2 linked regions of the Homo sapiens genome follow. The protein of the gene in region 1 interacts with the protein of each later gene in a pairwise test. Each region holds a gene or a part of one and is shown on either strand. Other genes may lie near its edges.

The links. Proteins that work in one complex are often made in the same cells at the same time.
Region 2: the proteins of HSF2BP (region 1) and PLB1 interact in binary tests that used the Homo sapiens proteins (3 or more experiments, as listed by UniProt).

What each region holds. Positions count from the first base shown.
Region 1 is NC_000021.9:43,631,730-43,635,676, reverse strand, and holds part of HSF2BP (heat shock factor 2-binding protein), read left to right. Parts: intron 1-2,255; coding exon 2,256-2,405; coding exon of another isoform or gene 2,406-2,414; intron 2,415-3,947. UniProt on the Homo sapiens protein: Meiotic recombination factor component of recombination bridges involved in meiotic double-strand break repair.
Region 2 is NC_000002.12:28,494,391-28,497,990, reverse strand, and holds the start of PLB1 (phospholipase B1, membrane-associated isoform 1 precursor), read right to left. Parts: upstream 1,932-3,600; 5' UTR 1,877-1,931; coding exon 1,822-1,876; intron 1-1,821. UniProt on the Homo sapiens protein: Calcium-independent membrane-associated phospholipase that catalyzes complete diacylation of phospholipids by hydrolyzing both sn-1 and sn-2 fatty acyl chains attached to the glycerol backbone (phospholipase B activity).

The sequences.
Region 1 (3,947 bases):
CCAGAATGCTAGGATTGTAGGTGTGAGCCACCGCACCCGGCCCTATGATTCATTTTGAATTATTTTTTTTTTGCATATGAATATTCGGTTGTTTTAGCATCAGTTGTTGAAAAGACTATCCTTTTTCCATTGAATTGCATTGGCACCTTTGTTAAAATCAGTTGACATGTCAGTGTTTCACTGATCTATATGTCCATCCTTATAGCAATACCACAATGGTTCTATTTCGGTAGGTTTATAGTTAGTTTTTTCCTCTAAATCAGGCACTGTTAGTCTTCTAACATTGTTCTTCTTTTTCAGACAATTTTTTAGATATTCTGTCTTGAATTTCCATAGAAATTTTAGAATCAGATTATCACTTTGTACAGAAGTCTGCTGAGATTTTGATAGGGATTGTGTTGAATCTGTAGATCAGTTTGGGAAGAATTGACATCCTGCCAATTTTTGAACATGGTGTATCTCTTTATTTAGCTCTACTTTCTCTCAGTAATGCTTTGTAGTTTTCATTGTATAGGTCTTGCACCTTAAAAAATTATTCTTATTTTTGATGTTACTGGGAATGCTATGATTTTCTTTGAGGTTTGTTTGTTTTTTTTTTGATATTATTATACTATGTGTGGAACCCTGCGTTGGGGAATATCCTCCTGCAACTACCAAATGTGACTGTAGTGAGCAAAGTCCTTCCTGGTTCTTCTCAGTAGTCTTTTTGTGGTCGTGCAGAAGAACCACCATATCCTGACTAATTGAGATGCAGACAGCTTAAGTTGTGAGAAAAGCTAGAATTCCAAAAGGAAGTGCTGTGACATAGTTTTCTTCATGTGTCACCATGACTTGTGTTCAGCTACGTACACTGAAAGGATGAATCTAGGAGTCCAGATTGTTGCTATAATGAAGACATTAAAAACCCGGAGCTGACAGATCACATGATGCAGTATTAGCATGTGCCAGAGGCTCAGTGGCCATTTTTTTCTTAAATACATGTGTGCATATACGTATGAATGTGTATGAATCTCTGTGTGCCAAACGCATTGTCTCCAGGTAACTATGAGTGGGCCACCCTAATCCAAGTTATGAGGTCAACAGTTTTGATTTGTGGCTCCAAAGCTCCCTTTTTCCTCCAGGGGGTGAAAAGCCCCCTCTACTTTGTCTTGTATTTATCTCTCTAAAAGAAAATCTACAGCATTTAATATACTTTAATTTTGTGGTTTATGTAACTAATTACATTTGGTATAAATGAATTTAACTGGGGTTTTATATTTTTCAGTTTTTGTCTTATTAAATCAGGAAATGCTATCACCTTTTAAGGGAATTTCAGGTACCTGGTGCTGGTGGTTGGAGAGGACAGGAAGCCCCCCATCACTCTAGCAGTACACTCAAGGTGAATCCTCGAAGTGTGCTTGTGTTGTCAGGAGGGCCATCAGGACGGCCATTCCCTGTGTTTCCCTTGTGAAGAGTGCCATGGTGGAGACTTGCCCAGCTACAGGTCACCTCAGACACTGCTGGTGGGAGAGTAGGAAACTCTTCCTAGCCTCCATCTTCTTCTTAGACTGGCACTGGCTTGCTGCACCAGGGCATGAATAGGACTCCCAGCCTTCACACTTCTTTTTGCCCCTCCTCCCATCTTTCCTACCTGGTCTTAGGTTTTAGGTTTTCTTTCCCTGTTTAGCTTCACAGATTGTATTTTATATTTACTGGCACCTTTGGCAATATTCTCATGAGGAGTTAAGGATACGTTTATACAGGATGAGTTTTTCTAAAGTACTTGTTTTTTTACAAATCCTGATGTCCAAGTGCCTTTTATTTGGTGTCTGCCTCTGGCAGATGGCGTTTTTTCAATGGAGTGAGCCATTTGGAGGAGGCAGTCTCCTGTCTTAGAAATGTTGCTTTCTGGGTAAATTGCTTTGTGAGGTTGTTTTTGTTCAGAAGCCTCGGTTGGTGCTGGTTCTGGGTATAGTTACTTGGGGCTTGAGATATTTCATGTAGTTACTTAAAGCAGATGAATTCAGCTCTGTGGGTTTATCAACCATAATGTGGTAGTATGTTCTTTCCTCAGATATTTCTCAAATATTTTTGCCTTTGAAATTTCTTTTGTAGATACAGATTATGGTTCTCTTAGGACTAGCTTTCATTTGCAACTATTTTCTATAATTATACATGCATTTCTTTAATAAATATCTTTGTGAAAGAGGAAATGTAATAAAGATATATCAAGGTTGAATGCTATTATTTATTTTTCAATTTTGTTTTGCTTTTAGGAGAAACTGGCTCTTCGACAGCAGTTGAATGAAGCGAAGCAGCAACTCCTGCAGCAGGCAGAGTATTGTACAGAAATGGGAGCAGCAGCGTGTACCCTCTTGTGGGGTGTCTCCAGCAGTGAGGAAGTCGTCAAGGCCATTTTGGGAGGAGTAAGTATGGTCAGTGGGCTCTCCAGATATTGTTGATTACTGCTTGTGTAAATTAGAGCATATAGCTTATTAAGGCATTTAAAGACTAAGTCCATATCTTTCCATTTTCTTTTGTTCACTCATCAGCTAGTTATTGAATACTTATCGTATATGGTTCATTGTAACCTGATGCAAAGGGAATGAAATAAGATCCCTTCTCTCCAGGAGACCTTGTGGTATATGTGGACATATTACCACTTCAGTATTAATACTTTACATGTGTTTAAGAAGATCAAAAGTGCTTTTATATATATTATCTCATGGTTAATATAGTATTTATTGAATATTGTGTTATCTAACATATATACATGTATGTAGATGTGTGTGTGTGTTTATACATACACACACACACACATACATATAGATGCAGAACCTTGAGCAACATGGAGGTTGGAGGCGCTGACCCCCTGCACAGTCGAAAAGCCACATAGAACTTTTGACTCTCTCTACTGTTGGCTGGAAGCCTTACTGACAACATAAATCGTTGATTAACACATTTTTTGTATGTTAGATCATCATGAAGGTCTTCCCCCTCATCATCTTCAAATTGAGTAGGCTGAAGAGGAGGAGGAAGAGGAGTGGTTGGGTTGGCATTGCTGTCTAAAGGGTGGTAGAGGTGGAGGAGGTGGAAGGGGAGGCTGGAGCAGCAGACACACTTGGTGTAACTTTTACTGAAGAAAATTCTTGTGTAAGTGGACCTGTGCAGTTCAAACCCTTGTTTTCAAGGTTCAACTGTGTGTGTGTGTGGCAGCGTGTGTGTGTGAGCATGTGTGTTTGAGCATGTGCATGTGTGTGTGACTGTGTGTGTGTGTGGGAGCATGTGTGTGTGGGGGAGTGTGTGTGTGTGGGGGGGGAGCGTGTGTGTGTGGGAGCGTGTGTGTATGGGAGCATGTGTGTGTGGGGGAGTGTGTGTGTGGGAGCGTGTGTGTGTATGTGGGAGCCTGTGTGTGTGTGTGGGGGGAGCGTGTGTGTGGGGGAGTGTGTGTGTGTGTGTGTGAGCCTGTGTATGTGGGATCGTATGTGTGTTTGTGTGGGGGAGCATGTGTGTGTGTGGGGGAGCGTGTGTGTGTGAGACTGTGTGAGTGTGTGTGTGGGAGCGTGTGTGTGTTTGGGGGAGCGTGTGTGTGGGGAGAGCGTGTGTGTGTGTGGGAGCGTGTGTATGTGGGAGCGTGTGTGGGGGGGGAGCGTGTGTGTGTGTGGGAGCATGTGTGTGTATGTGGGAGCCTGTGTGTGTGGGAGTGTGTGTGTGGGGAGCGTGTGTGGGGGGGGAGTGTGTGTGCCTGTGAGCCTGTGTATGTGGGATCGTGTGTGTGGGAGCGTGTGGGTGTGTGGGAGCATGTGTGTGTGTGGGAGCGTGCACACGCACATGTATGCATGCGTGCAGGCATTTGTCAGGGAACTTCACAGAAGGGGATAAATTTGAAATGGGCCTTGATGAATAGGTAGAAATGGCAGAAAATGGGTGGGTTTGTTTTAGGACAGTGAGTAGGTCAGTTGACACAG
Region 2 (3,600 bases), on another chromosome or scaffold:
TCCCAGCTCTCTGGGAGGCCGAGGCAGGCAGATCACTTAAGATTAGGAGTTTGAGACCAGCCTGGCCAACATGGTGAAACCCTGTCTCTACTAAAAATACAAAAATTAGCCAGGCACGGCGGCAGGCACCTGTAATCCCAGCTACTCAGGAGGCTGAGGCAGGGGAATTGCTTGAACCTGGAGGGCAGAGGTTGCGGTAAGCTGAGACCAAGCCACTGCACTCCAGCCTGGGTGACACAGCCAGACTCTGTCTCAAAAAAAAAAAAAATAGAGAATATACAAATGGACAACGGTGGGACCACATATGATAACAGAACTCTGAGCCACAGTCTGCAATCGGCCAGGCCAGAGAACCAAACTGCAGCCTCTGCAGCAATCAGCCCAGAATGGTCAGGTTTGGTTAATGACTGCCATCTTCTCTATTTTTTGCTCTGCTTCCAACTCAGGACCCCTCAGAGAAAGCCAGATACACTCCCAACTGGATAACTTCAGATGCCGTGCCTCTAGTCAGCTGGTCCCTGATACCAACAACCTCCAACCAGAGCAGATCTGAAGATTTCCCTTTTTTCCACTGTGAAACTTTCCCACTCCCCTGCCTGCCTTTGAATCTTGGCCAAACATAAGTGATGTCTCGCTACAGCGAGCTCTGAATAAGTAGCCTCTGTTTGTCCTCATTTGGGTAGTCTACATTTATTTACACAAAATTAAGAATTTTGCTCATCAAAAGTCCCCATAGGAGGACAAGCTTCAGAGTGGAACAAGATATTTGTCATATATGTAACCTCCAAAGAGCTAGTACACAGCATATATGGAGAACTCCTAAAAAATCAATAGGAAAAAGACTTCAACAGGCACTTCACAAAAGAGAAACTCAAACAATCTCTATGAAAACACTCCTTGGCCTCATCAGTAATCAAAGAAATACAATCATCCTGTGCAGAAGGCATAGCAAGCATCGTCATTCTCCCCCACGGCTCAGAGCGGTAACTGACTTGCCCCAGAGAAGCCTCAAGCATGGGCTCAGACCCTAGGCAGGCCCAGGACTCTGTCCCATGCCTCCTCCACTCTCTCTGGGGAGTCAAGGGCAAGTGCCTTCTCACTCCAGACCCCGTCCTCTCATCTGGAGAAGATGAAAGATCTTTAAGGCCCTTTTCAGTTTAAAAGATTCTGCCTTCCTAAGCAAAGGGAGAGCCAATGATGGGAAGAAGAGGGGCAGAGAGGGATTGTGGCAGAGGCACAATCTACCCACAGTCATTAATGTTGGGGGGAATGGAAAGCCCTGGCTGGTTGCCCACTCAGTTCAATGAAAGCTCAGCACTCTGTTTAGCAGCACTAAAGAATGTAGGCAATCTTTTAGAATTTATCATCTGGAAATCTGTCTTCCTTTGTCCTTCAAAAACAAAACAAAGCTCATAAATGGTAATAGTAATGATCAAAATGTGCATAGTAGTAGTATTTCCATTTTAAGGATGAAAAAAATCAAGGTCCAGGGAGGTGGAAGAACTTGCCCAAAGCCACAAAGCACAAACAAATAGAATCCAGGGGTTTTTTTTGTACCATGGTACTGCTACCGGACTGCACTTCTCTCCTGTCCCAAGATCTGCCTCGCTCCCGGCAGCCTTTGGGACATGTAACCCTGTGTAGGCAGCCTCTGCATCCCATTCCGCAGGAGGCAAACCAGACTTCTTATTCTTGAACTGTACGCTTTGTGCTTTATCTCTTCAAAAGCACACACTCCTCTCACACACCCATTGCCTAAGCAACATGGGACACCAGCGGGGCTAAACCACTGGTTGTCCTCTGAGCAAAAGGCACGCTTACCTTGCCCCAGAAGCAGCAGCAGCTCCAGGAGGAAAATGCCTGGCCGCAGCCCCATGCCAGAATGCTCCAGGTGACTCGGGCCTCTGGAAGAGCTGCTCCAGCAGATGGATGGGCTATCACACCTCCTCCTGCTTTTATGTTCCTCTGTGTTCTGATAGAGCACCTGTCATAAATTTTACTGTGTTCACCTTTGAAAGGGGGTAGTGGCGGGCTGTAAATGATAAATATTAACACTTAGGCGGAAGAGTTCTTAAGGCAGATGAGTCAATGATGGGTAGCATGTTCTAGTCATAGACACTGACAGACCAGGGCCGCATAGCTGCCTCCATACAGCCTTCCATGATGGTGGGTGCCCAGAAATTGCCGGTGTTCGGGTCTGCTGGGAAGAACGTGGGCCTGGGAATCCCAGGTGCTGGTCGGAATTCCAAATCAACCACAGCTGTGGGAACTTGGGTGTATCCCTTAACGTGGCCTCAGCTTTCTCAGTTGTAAGCCAGGAGATCAAAAGTACCTTGTAACAAATGTAAACCATAAACCTACCTCCAAATGTGAAACGTGTTCCCACCGTGTCTCAGAAGCTCTGCTAGGTTCCCTGGTTTGCATGACACAGAGAGGTTTGTTCTGTTCCCCCCATCTCCAAACCCATGGGTGGCCAGTTGTGTTGGGTGGATGTGCACACCATAGATTTGTTGTCTGCATGTTGAATTCAGAGATACAAGCCAGAGAGGGGGAACCAAGTTTGACAAAATCAGCCGTTTCCTTTGGGTAAACTAAGTCAGGAATGCAGGCTGGGTCTAAACTGGGCAGACAAAGCTGGCATTTAAAGCCTGAGTGACAAATACCCTTGAGAGTAGAATTTAAATTTTTTACACAAATATCAAGAAACAATTGCCTTGGTTGATAGGAACAAATATATTTAAATTATCCTTGCTTTCTGGCCATGCTTGTGGGTGTGAGGCTGGGATCCTGACTTCTGAGGTCTAGCTAAGACTCTAGGGCTGGTTCCCATGACCCAACCTCAGATTCTGATCTCCTGGCTGACCCACTTTTCTCATATTTAAAAATCACAGCCAGACACAGTGGCTCACACCTGTGATCCCAGCACTTTGGAAGGCTAAAGAAGGAGGATTATTTGAACCCAGGAGTTTGAAAACCAGCCTGGGCAACTCCATCTCTACAAAAAATAAAAATAAATTAGCCAGGCATGGTGGCATGCACCTGTAGTCCCAGGTACTTGGGAGGCTGAGGCAAGAGGATTGCTTGAGCCCAAGAGTTCAAGGTTGCAGTGAGCTATGATTGCACCACTGCACTCCAGCCTGGACAAGAGCAAGATTCCATCTCAATTAAAAAAAAATTGTTTTTAATTACTGTTATAACCTCTATTGTCTTGAGTAGAAAGTGAAGACGAAGTGAGTGGCCCTTTGTTCCTGAATCTCTGGTTTTAGGATGTTGTCTCCCTTTCTCAACTGCTCAGAAAATATGTGACTTGTGGGTCACCACTGATTTAGCCAATGCCAAAGGCTTAGCCTAAGCCTCAGGACTGTAGGGGGGTATTGGGACATGCCAGAGGTGTGTGGACACTGACACACTTAGTCCAGCTGGCCATCAGCTAGTTCCAGAGCCTAGAAGAGGGCAGCACACACAGACACACAGAAAAGGAAGAAGAAAATACACCCAAGGCCAAGGTCTGTGGGGGACAAGTGAGCACAGATGCCCCTGGATATGTAGACACTTGTCAACTTCACCAAACTGCCCCCAAGTTCAATGAGAAGCCAGAGC